2 separate regions of the Homo sapiens genome follow, and region 1 is linked to region 2. Evidence: fine-mapped expression QTL. A gene starts in region 2. The other region holds a variant in brackets. All regions are shown on one strand. Distances are between the middles of the regions.

Evidence for each region. PIP is the estimated chance that this variant, and not a neighbour inherited with it, causes the effect.
Region 1: its variant is fine-mapped to the expression of PTTG2 in whole blood (TOPMed, PIP 0.96).

The regions. Positions count from the first base shown.
Region 1 is chr4:37,878,025-37,890,133 of GRCh38, reverse strand. No RefSeq gene overlaps it. Among named protein-coding and RNA genes, the nearest start is that of TBC1D1, 7.0 kb to the left of the region's middle. RefSeq lists an enhancer at 8,346-8,846. The variant T/A (reference allele first, on the strand shown) is at 6,749.
Region 2 is chr4:37,955,917-37,967,630 of GRCh38, reverse strand. PTTG2 (pituitary tumor-transforming 2) reads right to left here and starts at 7,233. Exons shown (of 1, transcript NM_006607.3): 1 at 6,503-7,233. The coding sequence starts at 7,196. The coding sequence ends at 6,621. The region is part of intron 2 of TBC1D1 (TBC1 domain family member 1); the gene reads right to left.

The DNA.
Region 1 (12,109 bases), 78 kb after region 2:
CCCCAGTGTGCATGCCCCGATCAGGTCTGGGGACATTCCCAGCGGTGATGTAGAGTGCAAGGAAAGACGCGGAGATGTGAAAAGCGGGACAGAGCTCGCTCCCTAAGACTAGGGGATGGCAGTGTGCAAAAAACAGGCGAAGCTCCCAGATCCCTATCCCACCAGGCACAGAGGCGCAACGTCACTCGCAGGGTGGGGAGAGGGATCTGAGAAAAGTAAGAAGCATCACATCCTCTCCAGAGAAGAGTCCGCAGGGAGGGGAGAGCCGGGTGCTCGGAGGAGGCAGTTCCAGACCCCCAGGTGGCATCTTTCTGGATTTTTTTACTTAATGTAGCTGGGGGTGGACTTTAGGGAAGTGGCTGAGCGTTTGAGCTGTACGGTTGGACTTGAATCCAAATCCCAGCAGGTGTGGTTTAGGCAAGGTGCTGGACCTCTGGTCTTCATTGTCTTACCTGCTAAATGGGACCAATACACACCTTACAGGATCTTTGTGAGGACAAAGCAGGAAAGTGTAAGTAAAGTGGCCAGTGCAGTGACACAGACGTACATGGTCCTCAACTAAAAGCAGCAGCTATTATCAATATTACTGTGGCCCAGGAGGCAAATAGAGGGCCAGGTTTCCTCATCGTACCAAGAGCAGTGTCTTCCTTGAAGCCCACTGAGCTTCTTGTAGGCTTTTAGATTAGGGCTGTCTTATGGCATTCCCTGATTTCCCTGGATGCTTACATCCAGGGGAGGTATTTTTAAGTGGACCCAAGAGTTTTATTCACAGCTTGACTTAAAACTCTCACAATAGTGGTAGCTATTCTTTACGGAGGAGTTAGTCGATTTGGGGTATTGTGCTAGATACTGTCCTTATATATTGTTGCTAATTTGCTCAAAAACTCTGCAGGGCAAAGATTGTTAAATCCATTTGACTAAGGAGAAAAGTAAGAGGTTAGTGCCTACAGGGTTAGTGGGTGCTGGAATCTCCAAGATCCAAAGCCCTTTATAATATACTTGCTCTCTGGCCACTGTGTAGCCCTCAGCTCATTCTTTGTCATTGAGTAGTTATTTGTGTGCATAGCCTCAACTCTTTTTTAAGAAATATACAGTCATAAATACTGTAATGAGTAGAATGTTAACTGGGTTATGGAAATTATTCTTTAGGTTACAAGACCAGGTAAACCAGTTAAACCATATTGTTATCACTTGGGTCATATCCCAAATTATTTCATGTTTTTACCTTCAACTCTGTTGTAGAACTCTCTCTCCCTGTCTGCAGTGACCTGCTGCACACATTTACCTCCAGAGTGCTAGGAGGTCGAGAAAGGTACACTAGCATTCATTTCATTGACACTGTAAACTGCTTTTTGTATGTAACCCACCAGAGGATGGTTGAAACTGTTACCTAACAACCCTGCTTGCCAGGCCCTGCTCCTGGGAAAAGGGGTCAGGCCAAGGGGAACAGAGATAATTTGCTGGGCTCTGCTTACAGAACATCCTGGCTAGAGCCCCCTCCCATCCTGCCACTCCACTACCTTTTCTTTCCCTCACTTGCTCACCTCCTCTACCCTCTCTTCACCCTTACCCCTAGTCCCAGAGTACAGGAAGGCTTAAGTACAGGTAGGCAGCCAGGCGGGGTGCCTAACCAGAATACAGATGTAGGAAGTCGATGGGTGGGGCCCAGATGCAGGCCCAGGCCTCATATCTCTCAAAGCATTGACATCCAGCAAGTTCCAGCTCAGAGATTTATAATTTAGTGGCAAATGACCATTTGCCTTGACCCTTACCTAGGTTAGGGAGAGGTCATGGCCTTGTGAGAAGCAGCAATTTCTGCATCACTTTTCCAGCTCCCAGGACAGCTAGCACCCTAAGAATGATGAGGAGGGATTTTACCATACTTTCAACTTCTGGGAAACAGAACTCCCTCTATAGTATGCAATAAGGATTGTTGAAATTCTTTTTAAAATCTATACAGCATTATCTTAGAAATTAGGGGACAGCTTGCTATCAATCTATTTGGCCTTAGGTTTTCTAGCAGTTGTAGAACAAATAGTAAAGGGGACTTTGAAGCAGATGGTGATACCTGGTATGGCAGGATGAAGACTGTCAAATGTGGTTGGGGAGATCCATACTGGCCCAGTGCAGAGTGCAGAAGTAAGAGCTCACCACTCAGCTCTTACCTGCAGGTGCCATTGCTCTAGGAGGGAAGTAGCTCCTTCCCCTTGATATGTGGCCACGTGACTCCCAGGAGAGCTGGTACACACCATGGTAGAAGCGTGGGCCAATGGGGCCTTGGTGATGGCAACAGAGAGCTCCCTCAAGGCCCAGGAAGGTGTTCTGTTGGTCCCTCTTTAAGTCACCGATAACAAAAGCAAGCAGAGAATAGGGCCAAATGCTCCAATGATTCTGCTTCAGCTTCTGATTCTTCTGACGGAGTATGACCCAGGAACACAAGGAGTGTGGAGCTCTTCACCACCATGGGCATTTAGCTGACATCAGCTATGGACCCATTGGCTCAGCGAGTGAAAACCCTGATGCGAAGGCACCGACCATCATGGCTGCTGCACTTTTCCTGTCTGGACAACTTCCGCACCTCCAGCTCTTCCCAAAATCCTGCCATGGATCATTCTTTTAGGGCTTCTCCCATAGACTCTTTCCTAATTTAGCTATTTGCAGCATAATTAGTTATTCATTGCCAAAAGCCAGGAACATTAATATCAGCTTTAAGATGGCTGCAGAGCTCTAGAAAATTGTGAACCATCGATGCTATTAAATCACATGAAAAGCTCAGAGCCTGAAAGAAAACAGAGGCCACTTTACTTTTAAAAAGTTAAGGGAACCATGGGAACCATATATACATCTAGAATTAAAATCTTTCGTTGATGTAGAAAGAAGACCTTTAACAAAATTAATCATCATTAAATCCATCAGTTAGGTATTTAAATGCTCATATTAGTTAGGAATCCAAACTATTGCTATTATATATTTTTACTTAAATTCAAAATGTGCATAATAAGGTAGTGGGTCCATTTCCAAAAAATGGCATCAATAAAGGCAAAAAATAAGACTATACTGGCTAGAACCCTAGGATAGTAAGGTGGTTCACTGGGTATGCTTGTTCCCATTGATTGATAGTGACTTTCTGGAGCCCTGAGTGGACGAGGCTTGTAAGGCAAGTCCATGCTCAGTGGGAAAGGGTGCAAGATTGAGAAGCAGCACCTGCCTCAAGCATGGGAGGAGGCAGCATTGCAACACCAGCGCCAGGTAATTTGCCAACCCTGTCAATCCAAGGCATAACAGTTAGATCTAAAGAGTTTGTGAAGGCTGGGGTGGTGGCTTATCCTATAATCCCAGCACTTTGGGAGGTTGAGGTGGGCTGATCACTTGAGCCCAGGAGTTGGAGATGAGCCTAGGCAACATGACAAAACCTCTATAAAAAAATACAAAAAAAAAAAACTTAGCTGGGCGTGGTGTTGCACACCTGTAGTTCAAGCTACCCAGGAGGCTGAGGTGGGAGGATGGTTTGAGCCCTGGAGGTTGAGGCTGCAGCAAGCTGTGATGACACCACCACACTCCAATCTGGGTGTTGGAGTGAGAAACTGTCTCTAAATAATAATAATAATAACATAGAGTCTGTTAAGTTATGCCCAAATATCTTGTTTTCTTTCTTTTCTTTCTTTCTTTTTCTCTTTCTCTTTCTCTTTCTTTGTCTTCCTCTTTCTTTTTCCTTCCTTCCTTCCTAGCTTTCTTCCTAATTCTTTCTTTCTTTCCTTTGGTTTTGTTTTCTGAGACAGGGTCTGGCTCTGTTGCCCACGCTGGGGTGCCGTGGTGCCTTCGTGGCTCACTGCAGCCTCGACCTCTTGGGCTCAAGCTATCCTCTGCTCAGTGTTCTGAGTAGCTGGGACTACAGGCGCACACCACCACACCCAGCTAATTTTTAAGTGTTTTGTAGACACAGGATTTCGCTGTGTTGCCTAGACTGGTCTCAAACTCCTAAACTCAAGCAATCCACCCACATCGGCCTCCCAGAGCGCTGGGATTACAGACGTGAGCCACTGCGCCCAGTTCCCAAATATCTTAATTAACTATAAGAAATATTCTTCATGACAAGAAAATGAAAATCAAAGTCAGAGACTATATTACATCCAATTGTCTGCAATACTAGATCCCTGAAATTGCTTTCCGAAAGGCATAAGATTAATAAAATATGATGCAAAAAATTAAAATGAGCAGATAGCCAACATAGATTTTAGAATTTCAGCAATTGAAATAAACAAAAATTTTACTGCACGAAGAACTCACGCTTACAATGCAAGAGACAACGGTAAATCAATGCAGTGAGAGAATGGGTGGACTGTATACTTAAGCCCCAGAGTAGGCTTCTGTGAAGTATCTAATCTCCTTTTATGGACAAAGCAGATAAAACTCTGGGCACTGGTTCCACTTCCTTTTCCAGCAACCTCTCCTATTTGTCATTGCTCTACACAAGCAACTGCTCCACGCAGCTCTCTGACGATGTCCAGCCTTTACTTGGGGTTCTCACTTTCCACCCGAGCTGGTTCCGTGGGTCTGGGCACCAAGTACAAAGTTTGGCAAATGTTAGATGGCACGTCATTTTTAAATTATGATATCTAAATTTGTCTAAGGTCAATGAGAATTTTTTTGTAAATTGTCAGAGCTAGTTATGGATGTCGATGATTTTACTCAGACTGGGTAAGCTGACTAAGCTCTCTACCCTGCAGCAACCCCACTTCATTTTACCCCAAATGCCATTGGTGGTACCTAATGTGTAATCTCACCTAGAATGCAGGAGCTGCTAACTGGTTTCCCTGATTCGGCCCTCACCACCCTGCAGTCTATTCTTAACATAGCAGCCACTTGAATCTGCTAAAATATCATTTGGGCCATGTCACTGCTTGGCTTGGAATCCTCCCATGGCTTTCCAGATTCCCTGGAGTAAAAGTCAAAGTCCTTATAATGGTTTAGAGGGTCCTACAGGATCTTCTTTCTCAACTGCCACACCACTACCTCTGTCCTTTATCACCTGCTACCAGCCTTGACTCACTCTGCTCCAGCCACACTGGCCTTGCAGTTATGCAGAGCTGCCAGGCACACTCCTGCCCCAGGGCCTTTGCATTTACTCTTCCCTTTGCTAAGTGTACTCTTCCCTCAGATATTCACATTGGCCCCTCACTTACTTCACTTTGTTTAAATGTCACCTTCTCCATGAGGCCTTGCTGACCAAGTTTTTGAAAATGGAAACCACAGCTACGCCTACACACACACACACACACACACACACACACACACACACACCTTATCCCTTTTCCTGCTTTATATTTCTCCATAGCATTTACCTTCTAATGTACTATATTGGTTACTTGTATATCTTATTTGTCATTTGTTTCCCCCTCCGCCTTCCATGGGAGCAGAGAATTTTGTCTGTTTTATTTGCTGCTGTATCTTCAACTCACAGCATGGAGCCCAACACATAGTAGGCATCCAATGAATATGTGCTGAGTGAATGAATGAATGAAAAAAATAATTTGTAATATATAACATTTTTGAGTTCAATACATGTCTTTATATAGAAAGAGAGGAAAACCTAGAAATTCTAATCTAATAGAAGTACTATCTATTAGATTAGAATTTCTAGGTTTTCCTCTTGCTTAGAAATTCTAATCTAATAGAAATACTATTAGATTAGAAGTACTATCTATAGAAGTACTATCTATTAGATTAGAATAGAATCTAATAGAAGTACTATTAGATTAGAATAGAATCTAATAGAAGCGCTATCTATTAGATTAGAATTTCTATGTTTTCCTCTTGCCTAGAAATTCCAATCTAATAGAAATACTATCTATTAGATTAGAAGTACTATCTATAGAAGTACTATCTATTAGATTAGAATAGAATCTAATAGAAGTACTATCTATTAGATTAGAATAGAATCTAATAGAAGTACTATCTATTAGATTAGAATAGAATCTAATAGAAGTACTATCTATTAGATTAGAATAGAATCTAATAGAAGTACTATCTATTAGATTAGAATAGAATCTAATAGAAGTACTATCTATTAGATTAGAATAGAATCTAATAGAAGTACTATCTATTAGATTAGAATAGAATCTAATAGAAGTACTATCTATTAGATTAGAATAGAATCTAATAGAAGTACTATCTATTAGATTAGAATAGAATCTAATAGAAGTACTATCTATTAGATTAGAATAGAATCTAATAGAAGTACTATCTATTAGATTAGAATAGAATCTAATAGAAGTACTATCTATTAGATTAGAATTTCTATGTTTTCCTCTTGCCTAGAAATTCCAATCTAATAGAAATACTATCTATTAGATTAGAAGTACTATCTATAGAAGTACTATCCATTAGATTAGAATTTCTAGGTTTTCCTCTTGTTGACAGCTCATTAGATTTCTCAACTGTCCTAAGAGGTATGTCAATAGTTCCCCCCAAGGTGAGCTAAATGTTGAAGCATGTGACTCCTTCTTTAACCATCAACATAGACTCTAATTTCAGATATACTATAGAAGGACTTTAGAATCAGGAACAACTGAGAACTCATCAGCAGTCAAAGTTTGTTAGAAGTTTGGTTGAGAAAAATATGACCTTGGAGACCAGCATGAAAGATAATGCAGTTCAACTGGTCCTCTAAAATCTGGATCCCCTAAAATCAGTTCCTTATCAGATCAACCCAAGTGAAGATCCATTTGCCTGGAGTGTATCCAGAAAA[T/A]TTTTTTTTACTGAGTTTCACTTTGATATTATTCCATTGGTCCATAGTGGGGGAATGCATTTTATAAAAATACTCTATTCAGTCTGAAGATATTATTGAGGGTGTTTATTAATACCTTACACAGTGTCCTTTTAAAGAGAATCCAAGAAAAAGTTTCTCCTAGGACTCCACTAAGAAAAACTTTTCTTTCCTTGAGCAACTGATTTTATCTCCATCCTTGCACTGACCGTTTGGGGTTCACTGCTTGGCAGGCATCCAGGACATTTTGTGTGCTAAGTCAGTGATTCACAAATGCCCTTTCCAAGCCATTGCCAGTTTGTGCCACTTTTCATCTATCCAAGACAAACTATAAATAACAATGTGTAACTTCATAAAAGCAAACTGAACTTCTCTGTCTTCTGAGATCATGTTCTTCCTACCTTATAGGTACTAACAAATAAGTATTTCTTTTATGAAATTACGGTGAGAACCATATGGTGAGATCCATTGCTTTGTGCTTGTTTTATAATGTCTTTACTTGGCAAAAGAACATTATAGCGCCCCCTTGTCAATTCCTAGTGTTTGGAGAAATGTTACTGGTTCAGAAAATCCAAAGTCTAGGAGCAGTGGTTTCTACCTAATTCCTAGCATCATTCTATCTCACCTACTACCCTCTCCTTTCGTCCTGTTTTCTTAATTCACTTTGAATCATTTTTTGTTTACAAAAAAAGTGAATACATTTAAGCCATCTTCAATCATTCCTGGGATGTGGTAGAAATATGAGTGAGTGAGTGAATGAATGAATGAATAAACAGACTTGTACAGGCAGAGAACATACCAACTCGCCTGCAGCTCCACACTACATCAAATGTTCTCACTCATTACCACCTTGTATGCTACCTGTATAGTGTGTACAGTGTGTTGTAATTTACAGATCTCATATTATTTAACCCTCTCAGCAGCCCTCAGAGGTAAACGTTATTTCTCTCCCTCATTATAGAGAGTTGGAGTTGTCCTAAGGCAGAAAACCTGTGGGGGAGAAATTGGGGTTTTAACCTGGATATTCTGTCAGCAAGCCTAATTCTTTTTGTCTATACCATATTACTGCCTTTCAAACTAATGTTTTTGAGGGTGATCATGTTTGGAGGTGTTTTGATTTGTGTGGGGGAAATGAGAGTCTGGTTATTTCCTTGGCTTTCAGAATAACATTCCTTATTGCGAGGTGTTCCTGGTTGGGCTGCGCTTCAGCTGGGGCTCTCTGACCCTTTAACTTCTCGGGAGCATCCACAGAACCAAGGTTTCCTTGATCAGCACACATTGAAGAAACGTGCTCCGGGGCAGTCTCTTTTTGCTCACTTTTCTATTGCATAATAATTCATATTGTGCCACAGCATTATAGTGGGAGGTTGCTTCATTACTTTGTAATTTCTTTTAACATTAAAGCTGAGCTAGAGACATTCAGCCTTCTCATTTTCTTGTTGGTAAATATGAAATGTAGGATGAAGTTCTCCTTTACTCAAAAGAGTGTGGGTCCTTGGATAGGAAGCTTAGAGAAATCATTAAGGGGGAGGTAGAATTTACCAAGATTTCCAAAGTGGCAGGTAGTTACCGCAAAGGGGTTAGTAGTCTTTCAACCAGTAGAGATGCATAGATGAGCTATTCTTTCCATGGCTCTGAACTAGGCACTGAAGTGATGCAAAGAAATATGAGACAGCTTCCTTGTCTTCAGCATCCTTACTCTCTTCTAATTCAGGGTTGACAAACTACTAAAAGCCCATTTAGTAAATATTTTAGGCATTGCAGGACATTCCATCTCTGTCCCACCTTTCAAATCTGTAGCAGTGGCCGGGAACAGTGGCTCACACCTGTAATCCCAGCACTTTGGGAGGCCACGGTGGGCGGATCACGAGGTCAGGAGTTTGAGACCAGCCTGGCCAATATGGCGAAACCCCGTGTCTACTAAAAATACAAAAATTAGCCGGGCATGGTGGCGCATGCCTGTAGTCCCAGCTACTCAAGAGGCTGAGGCAGAAGAATTGCTTGAATCCGGGAGGCAGAGGTTGCAGTGAGCCGAGATTGCGCCACTGCACTCCAGCCTGGGCGACAGGGTGAGACTCCGTCTCAAGAAAAAAAAAAAAAAAAAAAGTCTGTTGCAGTGCAAAAGCAGCCACAAACGCTATGCAGACAAATGAGTATGGCTGTGTTCTAGTGAGTATGGACGCTGAAATTTGGATTTCATGCATTTTCACATTGTCACGAAATATTCTTTAAAAAAATTTTTCCAACCATTTAAAAATGTAAAATCCATTCTTAGCTCATGGGTCATACAAAAACAAGTAGCCGGATTTGGCGAGCAGGACATAATTTGCTAACCCTGCTCTAGGGCAAAGGTTTTTAACTATTTTTATAGTATAGATCCCTTTGCCTGTGTAATGAAGCCTATGGAACCTTCCTCAGAATAATATTTGTAAATGCCTAAAATAAAATAAATAAAATACATTAATAATGAAGTTCATATGTTATGATATCATGCTTTTAAAAATATATGTTGATATCTGTATTTCCATGTAATTGGCTACAAATTATATGGAAGGCTGGGTACAGACATTCAGCCTTCTTCTCATTCTTTTGTTGCTAAATATAAAATGTAGGATGACATTCTCCTTTAAGAGAAGTTCTCCTTTAAGTAACCAATTATATAGCCAATTATATAAAATTCTCCTTTAAGTAACCAATTATATGGAAATACAGACATCAACATATACTTTTAAAAGCATAATATTGTAATATATGGACATCATTATTAATGTATTAAATAACAAGATTTGCCCACAGGTATAATAACTACCATGATTTTGAGAGTGATAAAAATATATGATATTCTGAGATACTTGTTACAACTGAAATGTGACATGAAAATCAATGATTTCTATTGATGACAATGTCATGGGGAGTGATAATACTATTATGGTTTGTCACCTAAATTTTTAAAGGCAGAGAAATGTAAATTGTGATTAGAACTGCTAGAAGTAACTTAAAAAATGTATTTTTATTTTCCACCCAAGTTCACTGACCCCTTGGAGTGTATGCACAGAACCATCAGAGAACCTTTGATCTTAGGTTAAGCACCCATGAGAAATCAGTGACAAGACTCCATAAATCTGTGCATAATCCCTCCTTAATGTTCTGGAATCACAAGAGGCTAAAGCCTCTTTAAATTTGAACATTTCTTGAAAGGAAGAACTCATACCTGTCTCACTGACCAGCATCGGATGGTCTCAGACCACTTCCTGGCTATGTGAACTTGAACAAGTTATTTTCACTGAACTCTGGTGTGTCTATGTGTCTGTGTCCCCCCGCTTTTTTTTTTTTTTTTTTGAGACGGAGTCTGGCTCTGTCGCCCAGGCTGGAGTGCAGTGGCGTGACCTCGGCTCACTGCAAGCTCCGCCTCCCGGGTTCACACCATTCTCCTGCCTCAGCCTCCAGAGTAGCTGGGACCACAGGCGCCCGCCACCACGCCCGGCTAATTTTTTGTATTTTTAGTAGAGATGGGCTTTCACCGTATTAGCCAGGGTGGTCTGGATCTCCTGACCTTGTGATCCGCCCGCCTCGGCCTCCCAAAGTGCTGGGATGAGGCGTGAGTCACCGCGCCCGGCCTATGTGTCCCCTCTTTAAGATGACGGGAATAAAAATAATAGTACTTATCTTATGTTGTTGATAGGGTTAATGAGTTAGTAAATGTAAAACACTTGGAACAGAACCTGGCATGCAGTATAGCACATCATGCTCATTGTCATTATTCAGTGATGTAATTCTCTCTTGTTCTTCCTTCTCTGGATGCTATCAGCTCTTTCATGTAGCCTTCTCTTCTCTTCCTCTTTCTGTAGTGGGGAACAGGAAGCTAACCCAAGAGGATGTTTTCTTTCAGGTAAAAATTCAAATAACTTCAATCTTGGCTGGGCGCGGTGGCTCACGCCTATAATCCCAGCACTTTGGGAGGCCGAGAAGGGTGGATCACCTGAGGTCAGGAGTTCCAGACCAGTCTGACCAACATGGTGAAACCCTGTCTGTACTAAAAATACAAAAATTAGCTGGGTGTGGTGGTGCATGCCTGTAATCCCAGCTACTCAGGAGGTTGAGGCAGGAGAATTGCTTGAACCTGGGCGGCGGAGGTTGCAGTGAGCCAAGATCGAGCATTGCCAAGATCGAGCATTGCACTCCAGCCTGGGCAACAAGAGCAAAACTCCATCTCACAACAAAACAAAACACCCTTCAATCTTTGGAAAATTAAGACTTCAGGAATTCAGCGGTTGTGCTGCTGCAGAAACACTACAATGATTGCTTTAAGGAAAAGTTTGGAACATTCTTCCTCCTTTAAATGGTCAACATTTTGCCAGGGAGGGCAGGGAAAGCTTATCCAAACTGAGTAACATTTTTAAAGTTAAAATTTAACAATGTAAGAAGTCTTTCAAACCCTGTTTCCCCTCCCACGATGAGATGTTGTAGGGAGCTAATAGGTACACAGGCAAGCACAGTCAGGGTTGGGCAGTTCTAGCAGGTGTGGAGAAGACTCACAAGTCAAATGGATATAATGCAGGATAAAATATAACAATTTTTTTTTCTTTTTTCGAGATGGAGTCTTGCTCTGTCGCCCAGGCTGGAGTGCAGTGGCGTGATCTCAGCTCACTTCAACCTTCGCCTCCCGGGTTCAAGCAATTCTCCTGTCTCAGCCTCCTGTGCAGCTGGGATTACAGGTGCCCGCCACCAAGCTCGGCTAATTTTTGTATTCTTAGTAGAGACGGGGTTTCACCATGTTGGCCAGGCTGGTCTCAAACTCTTGACCTCTAGTGATCCACCCACCTCGGGCTCCCAAATTGCTAGGATTACAGGCGTTGAGCCACCGTGCCCAGCCAACAAAATGTTTAAGAGGCACAGTTATACCCCCAAAGAAAGAGAGAGATGTTTCCTAGGTGCTTAAACTAGTGTGAACTAGCCAGGCGCAGTGGCTCACACCTGCAATCCCAGCACTCTGGGAAGCTGGGACGGGTAGATCTCTTGAGCCCAGGAGTTTAAGACCTGCCTGGCCAACATGGTGAAACCCTGTCTCTACAAAAAATTCAAAACATTAGCCAAGCATGGTGGTGCATGCCTGTAGTCCCAGCTACTTGGGAGGCTGAGGTGAGAGGATGGCTTGAGCCCGGGAGGTCAAGGCTGCAGTGAGCCATGATAGCGCCACTGCACTCCAGCCTGAGTGACAGAGTGAGACCCTGTCTGAAAAAAAAACTTTTTAAAATAGTGTGAACTAAGAGGAAGAGCAAAAAGCAGCAGCTGAAGTGCCCACGGCCTTGGAGAATGTATGAGACTAAGTGTGGCCTCTAGGAC
Region 2 (11,714 bases):
CCCAAACTTCCTCTTTCCACTTCTTCTATAGTAAATCAAAATTTTCTGTTTTTTATAAGGTGGTTTAGTTTACCTTCATTTAGGATAATTTCCCACTTCTAAAATAATTTCTCTTTTTTATCTTTTTTTTTTTTTTGAGACAGAGTCTCACTCTGTCACCCAGGCTGGAGTGCAATGGCGCAGTCTCGGCTCACTGCAACCTCCGCCTCCCAGGCTCAAGCGATTCTCCTGCCTCAGCCTCCCAAGTAACTGGGATTACAGGCACACGCCACTGCGCCCAGCTAATTTTTGTATTTTTAGTAGAGACGGGGTTTCACCATGTTGCCCAGGCTGGTCTTGAACTCCTGACCCCAGGTGATCCACCCGCCTCGCCCTCCCAAAGTGCAGGGATTACAGATGTGAGCCACTGTGCCCGGCCCTCTTTTTTATCTTAATAAAATTCCTTTAAAATTGCCAAGTTTTAAACACAAATGAAGCTCTTTGTGAATGTCCTCACTCTTTTCAAAGCCTAAATTTATGTGCTTCAGCACTGAATTTTGGATTCGAATTGCACAGCAAGCACCTGGAAAAAAAAATGGTGCCACAAACCTCTGCAGAAATGCACAAAACAATTTGAATTTTTTCCTTTGTTGTAACTTAAGATTCCTACAAAAAGTCCACCAAGCCACAGGTACTTGCATGTCAACAAGAAGAATGTGCCTGGTAAAACTCAGTGTAATCTTCAGGTGCACTGAGCAAGCTCATCTTCCAGAATATAAGACCCAAGTGCCGAATTCCTAGGCAAATGCCCCTCTGAAAACCTTTAGATAAAAGGTGTCTCCAGGGCAGGGAACATCACACACCGGGGCCTGTTGGGGGGTAGGGGGCTGGAGGAGGGATAGCATTAGGAGAAATAGCTAATGTAAATGATGAGTTGATGGGTGCAGCAAACCCTATGTATCAAACCTGCACGTTTCGTACATGTATCCTAGAACTTAAAGTATAATAATTAAAAAAAGATAAAAGGTGTCTGTATACTTAGCAAAGAAACTCATAGATTATAAAATAAACCACCATCTGCATCTTAGTCTCTATGCGTAGCTAGAGAAGGTACATAATTGAAAATGTCCATTGGCCTTGATAGGAGATGTAAGGGCTGAGAAAATATAAGAAGGAAATAGTTTAGCTTCTCTTTTCCATTTGTGTGGGGATCCCACTCAGTTTTTTAAACGCTTCTAAGTAGTGATGTCTGAGTCATTGCTCTTCTAACCTGGAATTTTCCAAACAGGACAGAAGTTTTGCTCTGGGTGAGGTGAAGATAAATTCAGCTTTCAGATGAGGGTCAGGAGTCATCTAAAGTGGGTCAATCAATTTGCACATGGATTTGTGGAGTCTTTCTCTGTGTGAGGCAGCCCAGGCTGTCCAGGTGCTTGCTGCTAGCCTATACCTGCTGGCAACCAGCTATGTGACCTCAGACAGTTCATGTCACATTCTCTGAACCTGTTTCCACCTTGTAAATTGTGGGTATTAGGCCCACGATCTCCAAGGTCCCTTCCAAGCTTCCCTCAGGCATGTTGTGAAATATACGCTAAATTAAATGCCCATGGCCAGGGGCGATGGCTCACACCTGTAATCCCAGCACTTTCAGAGGGTGAAGTAGGTGAATCACTCGAGGTCAGGAGTTCAAGACCAGCCTGGCCAACATGGTAAAAGCCCATCTCTACTAAAAATACAAAAATTAGCTGGGCATGGTGGCACCTGTAATACCAGCTACTCGGGAGGCTGAGGCAGGAGAATCGCTTGAATCTGGGAGGTGGAGGTTGTAGTGAGCCGAAATTGTGCCACTGTACTCCAGCCTTGGTGACAGAGTGAGACTCCATCTCAGATAAATAAATAAAATAAATAAATAAATAAATAAATGTCCATGACAGGTTTGCACCTGGCAGCCTTCGCTCAGGGTCAAGGTAGAACTAAACATATCTGCTCACCGATCTCTAGGTCATAATATCACAAGAGCCCCGATGCTCCTGGAACTTTTCCAAATATCTAGAGTTCTTGTTCTCAGGGACAACACAAGTATAAAAAAGAATGCCAACTCAGTGCAGGGATCACCTCCCTCCACTTCAAGGTACCCCTGCTCCAAGATCAAGGGTCAGGAAGGATGAAAACAATATCCGCTGAGTACTTACTGCATGCCAGATGTTTTCATATATTATCTATCTCCCAACCCTAGATGGTAAGAATAATTGTAATAGTAATAAAACATAATGTGTATTGAGTGCTTCCTATCTGCCAGACACTGCTAAAACCAGCAAACCTTCAGGCAGCATCCACCATGCACCAGGCATGGTTCAAAGCATTTACAGCGCATGAGGTCGAGAGTATGAGTACCTATTTTTGGATGGGGAAACTGAAGCACTCAGGTGGGAAAGGAGAAAACCAGAATCAGGCCCAGGCACTCTGCCAACTTAACCACTTTACTTCACAGCCCCTAATTATGTTAAAACCCTGCTGCAAGGTATTACTTATTCTGTTTTGCAGATGAGGAAACTGAGGTTCAGGAAAGTAAAATAATTCACCAAAGGCCTCACCTAGGCACAGTGGAGCAGTGTCTGCGTAGACCACCTGTCAGCATCCCTCCAAGCAGGTCCTAACTGCTACAAACACAGGGCTTCATGCTCTAAGATTTCAGGGAGCTGGCATGGCCAAGAGAGGTTCTCTAGACAGACACCATGCTCTGGCAGCTTCCTGCCAATAGCAGGCTCTGTCAGGGAAGGAGCTTGGCCTTTTTCATGAGGCTGGGGACAGAGCTGATGCTAGCTAGATGAGATACAAATAGACATGAAATGGCAGCAGATTCTAAAGAACAAATGAACGAATGAGGTAGGAAGGAAGGAAGAGAGAAAGGAAGCAAATTCTTGTTGGGTCTGAGGCAGCAGGGCCCTTCTCAAGGGTTCAGCCAGGCCAGGGGCTAATAAGAAAGTGAGACCCGCAGTAGGCTGCCCCTTGTCCCCATCCAGGCTACGCTGGGACCAACAGGCCAAACTCCATCTGAACCCAGGACAAAGCAGGAGCTGTGCTGCCGGATCTCGGGAAGGCAGGCACATTGGTCCTTTCTGTGAAAAACTGGTCAGGCTAGTGGACAGGAAAACCCTGACCTCAGTGCCTAGGAAATTCAGTGGCAGCGGGCTTGGTCCTCGCCACAGCCTAATGGGAACCTGAGTGTCCAGTTGGATCCTGAGTCTCGAGTTGGATGTGTCAGTGGATCTAGCACGAGGTTTAGAATCACCTTACATGAAGTACAGCGCCCCGACCCTCCTTTCCAACTGTGAGACTGTGGTGCATGCACTGAAGCCTAGGGGACTCCAAGAAAGGGGCACACGGCCTCTCTGTGCCAACAAATGCTGCTTTAACTAATTTCATCAAGTGGTAATTTCGCATATCCAACCCTGGCCCATGTGTGTGCAGAGCACTGAACTTAAGCCATTGCAGTCACCATTGCAGTAATTCATTCAGCCACTCAATATCTATTGCATTCCAGTCCTCAGGGATGCTATAGTAAGCAAGCCACCTGCCCCTGCAGGAACGTCTTATGGTCCAGCAGGCCCATACAGCAAGGAAACAGGAAATGGCACAACTGGGTGATAAATGCAGTGAGAAGGAAAAGAGAGGGTGCTATGAAAGCTACAGAGAGGGCCCCTAACCAACATCAGGGACCCTGTAGTCACCCTGGTGTTTTAAGCAGGCACCAAATGCCAAGTACAAATGAGCCATTGGGGGGAAAAAGAGCAGGGATATCATTCCTAATCTACAAGGGAGTAGAGTCCGATATTGGATTTTTTTATTACAGTATTCTTGTTTCTTAGGATCTTAAAAATTATTAAATGTTTTTAAAACATTTAAATAGCATAATATAAGAGACACCCATGTAATTACTACCCAGTCTTAGCAGTTTCAGATATTTTGTACGTAAGTACATAAATGGGTATTTTTTTGACACGGAATCTCACTGTGTCACCCAAGCTGGAGTGCAGTGGCGTGATCTCGGCTCACCGCAACCTTCACCTCCTGGGCTGAAGCGATTCTTGTGCCTCAGCCTCCTCAGTGAGTAGCTGGGGTTACAGGCATGTGCCACCATGCCCGGCTAATTTTTGTATTTTTAGTAGAGATGGGGTTTTACCATGTTGGCCAGGCTGGTTTCGAACTCCTGGCCTCCAGTGGTCCGCCCACCTGGACCTCCCCCCTCCCTCACCCCCCACCTCAACTCTTTCTTGCTCTTGCTCTGCCATGTGAGAGGCCTGCTCCCTCCTTGGCCTTCCGCCATGACTGGAAGCTTTGTGAGGCCTCCCCAGAAGCTGAGCAGATGCCACTGCCATGCCTCCTGTACAGCCTGCAGAACTGTGAGCCAATTAAACCTCTTTTCTTTATAAATTACCCAGTCTCAGGTATTTCTTTATAGCGATGCAAGAATGGCCTAATACTGTACTTTTTGTGAGTCAGTTTAAAAATGAGTGTAAGCTAATAAGTAAATATGCATAGCTTCAACTAAATGATTTTTATGGACTGTAGCAGAGGACCTGGCTTGTATTTTCTTAATGGTTTCATGTCTCATGCCAAGGCCATCATATGCAAAGAGACATCTGAAAAAAAGTTGATGTTTATTGCCAAAGAAGTACTTAAACTGACTGTAATGAAGATGTTAAAGAGCTTCAGAGAAGCTGTATACTATTTCCGTGGGCTGACCACAGACACACTTTAAATCAAAGGCCAGCTGATCATTGGACTTAGGGTGATTTTTAAAACACTTTCTTTTTTTATCCAAGTTTTTATTCAATTCCCTTGACTTATTTCAGTTTAGAATTTGACTTCTTATTATCCTTATAGTAATCCTGAAAAAATTACCAAGAATAAAAAATATCATAACTACTAACATAACTAAGTCCACAGGATATTAGAACTGCAAAGATACCATATAGCTAAACCTCTTTATTTACAGGTGATGAAACTGAAGTCTGAGAGGTTAATTATTCATCCATCTAACAAATATTTATTGAGTTTCTACTCTGATATCATTTAGATCCTTACTATGCTAATAACCATACATAAATATGGCAGTAAACATTTAGAAATTTAAACGTTTAGTGTCTCTATCAACAGCTATAAGAGTAAAATTTTAGATGTTACCGGCTTGCCCAAGGTTGCATATCCATTAAACAGAGGAAGCAGGGTTAAGACCCAGGGAGTCTGACTCCAGTAATACTTCCTGTCTTGCCATGGGATACACCTATGGTTCTTGAATCCAAAATGCAGAAATATGAATCTTACAGGAGAATGAGGCCCTACCATTTACAGAATGTGATGTCTTCCTTTACAGATGAAATTTAGTTCTTCTGGTGAAGAGGACAATGGCTGGGTAGGAGCTTATGCCCACACCTAATGGAAACTTATCCTTGACCTGCGTGGCTACTGGCCCAAGATAAAGATTACTTGGAGCAGCCCACCACAGAATCAGCTCCAAGATATGGGGGAAGTACTTGGACACCATAGTGAACAAAACAGAGATGGTCCCTGCCCTCATGGGGCCCACAGTTTATTTGGGAAGACAGGCAATGTACAAGTAAATTCTCAAATATTTTATGATTTGTCTTGAATTTTTAAACTTAAACCTTCTCCAGTTTTAAAATAGCATGGAAGCAAAAATCAAAATGGAGTGGAGCAGATCACAAAATTGTAACTCTTCTCTAAGGACCAGTATGACAGCCTAGGACTGAGACCTTGCATCTTTTTTGGAGGTCAGTTCTGACAGCATCCTTTGATTGAAGAGGGATTTGGAAACTTTGGCCTGTCATGGCCTTTGATGGTTCTTAAATAGCCACATCTAGTTGGCTTTTTGTGGAATAACATGTTCAGAGACATAACCACCACTCACTTTCAGTAGAAAGAGCAAAACCACTAACATGTATAATGAATAGCAGCTCCTGGCCTAGGAAACTCACTAAGTCTTGGAATTCAGGAACCAGAGAGGAAACCCTGAAGCCTCTCAGGTGATCTGGATTGACACCAGACATCTGTGACTCTATCAAAGCTTTGTACAGAATTCAAGGCATGGACATAAAAGTGCTTTAAGTTGTAAGACATTAGCAGAATAAGATACGGGATTTCATGAACATTATTTAGCCATATAGACATTTTAAGATAATCAGTGTTAGTCCTAGCTGCAAATATGTTCCCTATTTTTTTTTAGCATTCCACAAAATTCTCATTCTTTTAATTATCTCCCTTTGCTGCTAGGACCTCCTTAAGGCTTTCATCTGGTTCACACTAGGCTGGGAAGAAAAGATGTAGAAGTTCTTGGCCTGGCCCTGGCCTTTTCTCCTTTATCCTTTGCTATTTCCTGTCTCCTGTTTCTCTACAGAAGTAAATCATGTTGACATATCCCCAAAGAGTACGGGCTGTAGTATGGAAGAAATATAGAAACAAGGGACAGCTGAGACAGATGCACATAAAGAGGAATATGACCCACTTTATATTTATGTATTTATTATGTTGTTAAACAAATAATGCTTTATTAATACAAGTACACACAAACTCCAAAGCACTAAGAAATTTAAATATCTATGTCATAGCAAACAGCTGGCAATTCAACATCCAGGGTCGACAGAATGCTTGAAGGAGACTGCAAACAGATTGCATTCCCATGGTGGAGAGGGCATTTTCACAGGTGAAGGGGGGCCCAGCTGAAACAGCTTTTCAAGCTCTCCCTCCTCATCAAGGATCATGAGAGGCACTCCACTCAAGGGGAGGTGTGCAATCTGGCGCTCTTCAGGCAGGTCAAAACTCTCAAAGTCTAGAAGATTGAAGGGAAAGAATTTTTCTATTTCTGGATAGGCGTCATCTGAGGCAGGAACAGAACTTTTTGTTTTAACAGTCTTCTCGGTCATCTTTTTGGCAGAAAAGCTTGGCTGTTTTTGTTTTCTGGGTCCATTGGTCTTTACTGACTTTTCTGTAGCTCTGTTGACAGTGCCCAAAGCCTTTCTGGTAGCTTTAGGTAAGGCTGATGGAGCATCGTATGTTTTGCCAAAACGTCGTGTTAAAACTTGAGATATCCCATCTAATGCTTTGATTGAAGGTCTAGACTCCAGCTTCAGCACATCCTTGGCAGCCACACGGGTGCCTGGTTCTCCAATTTCCTTATCAACGTAGATCAGAGTAGCCATTCTGGATTATTGCCGCTCTCAACAGCCACATTCATCTAAGACCGTGGTCCCACTTTATATTTAGATAGAATGTTAACTATAGTGGAAATTGGTGTAATATCTAATTTTTGTGCCTAGCACATCATCTGAGAGTTAGCATGAACTCATATAAAGAGCACAGGCCTGAGGTCAGACAAACCTGGGTAGGAATCTCGGGAGTACCACTTTCTGTTAGCTGTAAGATTTGGGCAAGTTAGCTAACATCCAAGCCCTATTTCCACATCCATAAAATGGAGGTAAAACCCAACTCTTACACATTGTTAAATGGTCAAAAACCACTTAGGTAAAGGGCAGAGCAACCAATAAATAAATAGTTTCTGCCGTTATTGCATTTTCTAATTTATAATGTACTTTTGCATACATTATTTCACTTCTTACTAACCTTTAATAAATGCAAGTCTTCCATTTTTTACTAAAGCAGCACCCCTGAAGTTTCTCTAAACTGCAAAATGCTCAAATGTTTCATCCCGAGTTATCCCTTTTGCCAACTCTGATCTACTGGTGGCAGACAATCCAGCATGCAGTGGTGGGGAGAGCCGAGAGGCCCTCTCTGAGCAACGTGACTACTAATGGTGCTTGCTTGGGCAGGAATACTGGACTATGGCAATGACTATATACCTTTGCCAACCCAACCCCAATCTAGTCCAGGCTATTGATTCACAGCAGCAAAGGGTCACTTCTGTTTCTAAGGCCTAGAGATAAGTTGAGGGCACTTTTGCAGTGAGCCATTTCAATTCAATGATAAATATTCTTGTTGTCTAATTCATTCTATGAATCTTTGACCCAGTGACATATGTGCGTACGTATTTGAGCCCATATGCAAAAATATACAGTTGAGTCTTGAACAATACAGGATTGAGTCGCATGGATCCACTTGTTCTCAGATTTTCTTCTGCGGCTGCCACCTCTGAGACTGCAAGACCAACCCCTCCTCTTCCTCCTCCTCCTCAGCCTATTCAACGTGAAGACAATGAGGGTGAAGACCTGTATGATGATCTATTTCTACTTAATGAATAATGCAATATGTTCTCTTCCTTATGATTTTTCTTAATAACATTTTCTTCAGCTTACTTTATTGTGAGAATACAGGATATAGTGCATAAAACATACGAAATATATGTTAGTCGACTGTGTTATTGGTGAGGTCAACGGAAGACTATCGGTTAAGCTTTTTGGGAGTCAAAGGTTATAGGTGGATTTTCGACTATGCAGGTGATTGGCGCCCCTAACCCTCACATTGTTCAAGGGTCAACTGTGCCTGTTTATTTGCATAAGGCCACCTCAAATACAAAGGGCCATTCAAAGGTATCATTAGAAGTCTTGCTCTTAACCTGACACAGCTAGCTAGAAAGTGACAGAGCCATGACTTGGACCTGGTATATCAACTGATTGATGTAACCTCTATATGGAGCTTGTAAATTCAAGTGCCACCCAGAGTCAGTGAGGGAATGTAAATATATGATGTGCCAGTGGAAGACAATGGGGAACGGGGAGACTGGTGGGGTAGAGTGTGTGTGCCAATCTGCAGGCATTCCAATTGAATTGTTTTTCTTCAAACACTATGGTAGGCAACTTTTACAATAAAGTTTGCAGGCCACCTGTCTGTAATCCTGTCTCATTATACCATTAGCAGGAATTATTATTAAACAACTTCTTTCAACTCTTCCGACACATTCATTTTTTATTAACAGCCTTCTAATAGTACTCTGAATTGGGGCAGAAATAATTAAAGTAAAAGATGTCATATATGTGTCCTAAAGAAGGGACAAATAAAGGAGGTCTAGAGGTGTGAAAGCAAATCTAATCCAGGAACACTTTCTGGAGGAGGTGGCATTTGAGCTAGGAGAGATGGAATGCTTAAGTAAGAGAAGGAGCTAGGAGAGACGGAATGCTTAAGTAAAAGAAGAGGAAATCTCCCCAGGCAAAAGAAACAACAATGAACAAAACAGAGGAAAGCATGGCTACGAGGAAAAATTAACTGTCCCATTTTGCTGGAAAATAGAGTACACCATCTTGGAACAAAAATAAAAAATATGAAGAATCATCTGGGACCAGATATGGTCAAGGTTCTTGATTGCCAAGCTAAGGAATCTGGTGTTTATTGGTTAGAGATGAAAATGGCCTGCTCAGAGAATGGGTTTTCTAGGAGATGAATCTGCTTTGTTGATCTTACAGACTCTTTCTTAATATGAAGCATACTTTTTTCCTAGACAACTTCAAATCTGAAAAATGTGTTACTATTCTTAGCATATGTTTTTGAAAGTAAACTTGGTCGCCATAAACGTATATGAGAAAAGGGGCATAAAAACTGGCAGCAAATCCAGTAACTGTAGCCATCTGTGTTTCTGTTGTTCTAAGCAGAGATCAACAAAAATAGCATTTTAAAAAACATATAAGTATGGTTGAAGTAATATTTTCCAGTGAAGCTTTCCACAAGTGGCTGCTGATAATTTTATCTGGTATTTTAAAATAAAATACACTACCTACAGGACACCATGAAAAACTATCATCTGTTGCATTATAAATGGAAGAATAAAAGGAAGGAAAGACAGAAGGGAGGGAGGAAAATGATATGTAGTTTGTCAGGAAATGTAAATCACATGTCAGAATTGACCTTTTAAAAAGTAATAATGAGCAATAAGAAAAACATCAAACAATCTGTTCTGAACTTTTATGAAAAAGTGGTGTAGGATAAAAATGGAGTTTGGAGTCAGAAAGACTGTTTTGGAATCTCAACTCTCTTCTCTTTCTATATTATTTATTTATTTGTTTTTATTTTTATTATTTTAAGAGATAGGACCTTGCTCTGTTGCTGAGGCTGTGATCATAGCTCACTGTAGCCTCGAACTCTTAGGCTCAGGCAATCCTCCTGCCTCAGCCTCCTGAGTACCTAGGACTACAGGCACGCACCCCCATGCCCAGGTAATCTTTTTATGTTTTGTAGAGAGGGGTCCTGCTGTGTTGCTCAGGCTGGTCTTGAACTCCTGGGCTCAAGATATCCTCCTGCCTTGGCTTCCCAAAGTGTTAGGATTACAGGCATGAGCCACTGTGCCCAGCAATACATATTCCTGTCAACAGATAAATTCCTTGTCTCTAAAAAGTAGTGTTATTTATTACTTTAATGATTGTGAAGAATGAAAACATGTGTCATATCAGGTATCATACATTTGTCTCTTTCCTTCTTTTGGAAAGGAAGAGATACGTCTGCCACATTGTGTAACTGTGGCCATGAGTATTATACAAACTCATGAGGGGCTTATGTTCTCCCATCTCACGTAGGGAGTCTAAATGTTTATGTGGTCAGCTTGATCCTTCCTGTAAGGGGAGGGAGGCCATGGTGCAGATAATCCCAAAGACCGGATAGGAGTAATTCTTTAAGTTTCACCGTGGCATGCATCAGTGGCTTCTTTGGGGGAAATTCATTTCTACACTCCCTTCTTTTTTTTTTTTTTCTTTTGAGACGGAGTCTTGCTCTGTTGCCCAGGCTGGAGTGCGGTGGCGCGATCTCTGCTCACTTCATCTTCCACCTCCTGGGTTCAAGTGATTCTCGTGCCTCAGCCTCCCAAGTAACTGGGACTACAGGTGTGCTCCACCACACCTGGCTAATTTTTAGTAGACATGGGGTTTCACTGTGTTGGCCAGGCTGGTCTTGAACTCCTGACCTCAAGTGATCTGCCCATCTCGGTCTCCCAAAGTGCTGGGATTAGAGGTGTGAGCCACTGTGCCCGGCTACACTCCACTTTTCTTAAGTTAATACTAACATTAGTTGGCGTCCCTGAGCATATCACATGAGGTCAAGGGGAAAAGACACAGAATGGAAGTACAGGGAAAAGCCATTTGGTCATTTTAAATGTGTTAAAGCACAATGAGGATAGTCTGCTGGAAGTTTATTCACTTCACATTCAATATGTATTGAGCACCTACTGGGGGCCAGGTACTGTCTAGTCTGTGGCAACACATCTGTGAGCAAAACAAACCAAAACCCCTGCCCTCGGGAAACTTACATCCTAGTGAAAAGAGAGTCAGACAACGAATGAAACAAATTTTTAAATGGCATAGTGTATTAGAAGTTCATTAAGCCGGGTGTGGTGGCTCATGCCTGTAGTCTCAACACTTTGGGAGGCTGAGATGGGTGATCGCTTGAAGTCCAGGAGTTCGAGACCAGCCTGGGCAACACAGGGAGAACCCCCGCTCCCATCTCTACAAAAAATACAAAAATTAGCCGGTTGTCATTCCAGCTACTCAGAAGGCTGAGGTGGGAGGATGGCTTGAACCTGGGAGGCAGATGTTGCAGTAAGCCTAGATCACGACACCGGTACTCCAGCCTGAGTGACAGAGACGTTGTTTCAAAAAAAAAAAAAAAGTTTATTTGAAGCAGATTATATGTATTTTGGGGGAAGATATTTATTTTTTATTTTTTAAATAGAGACAAGGTCTCACTATGTTGCCCAGGCTGGTCTCAAACTCCTAGACTCAAGC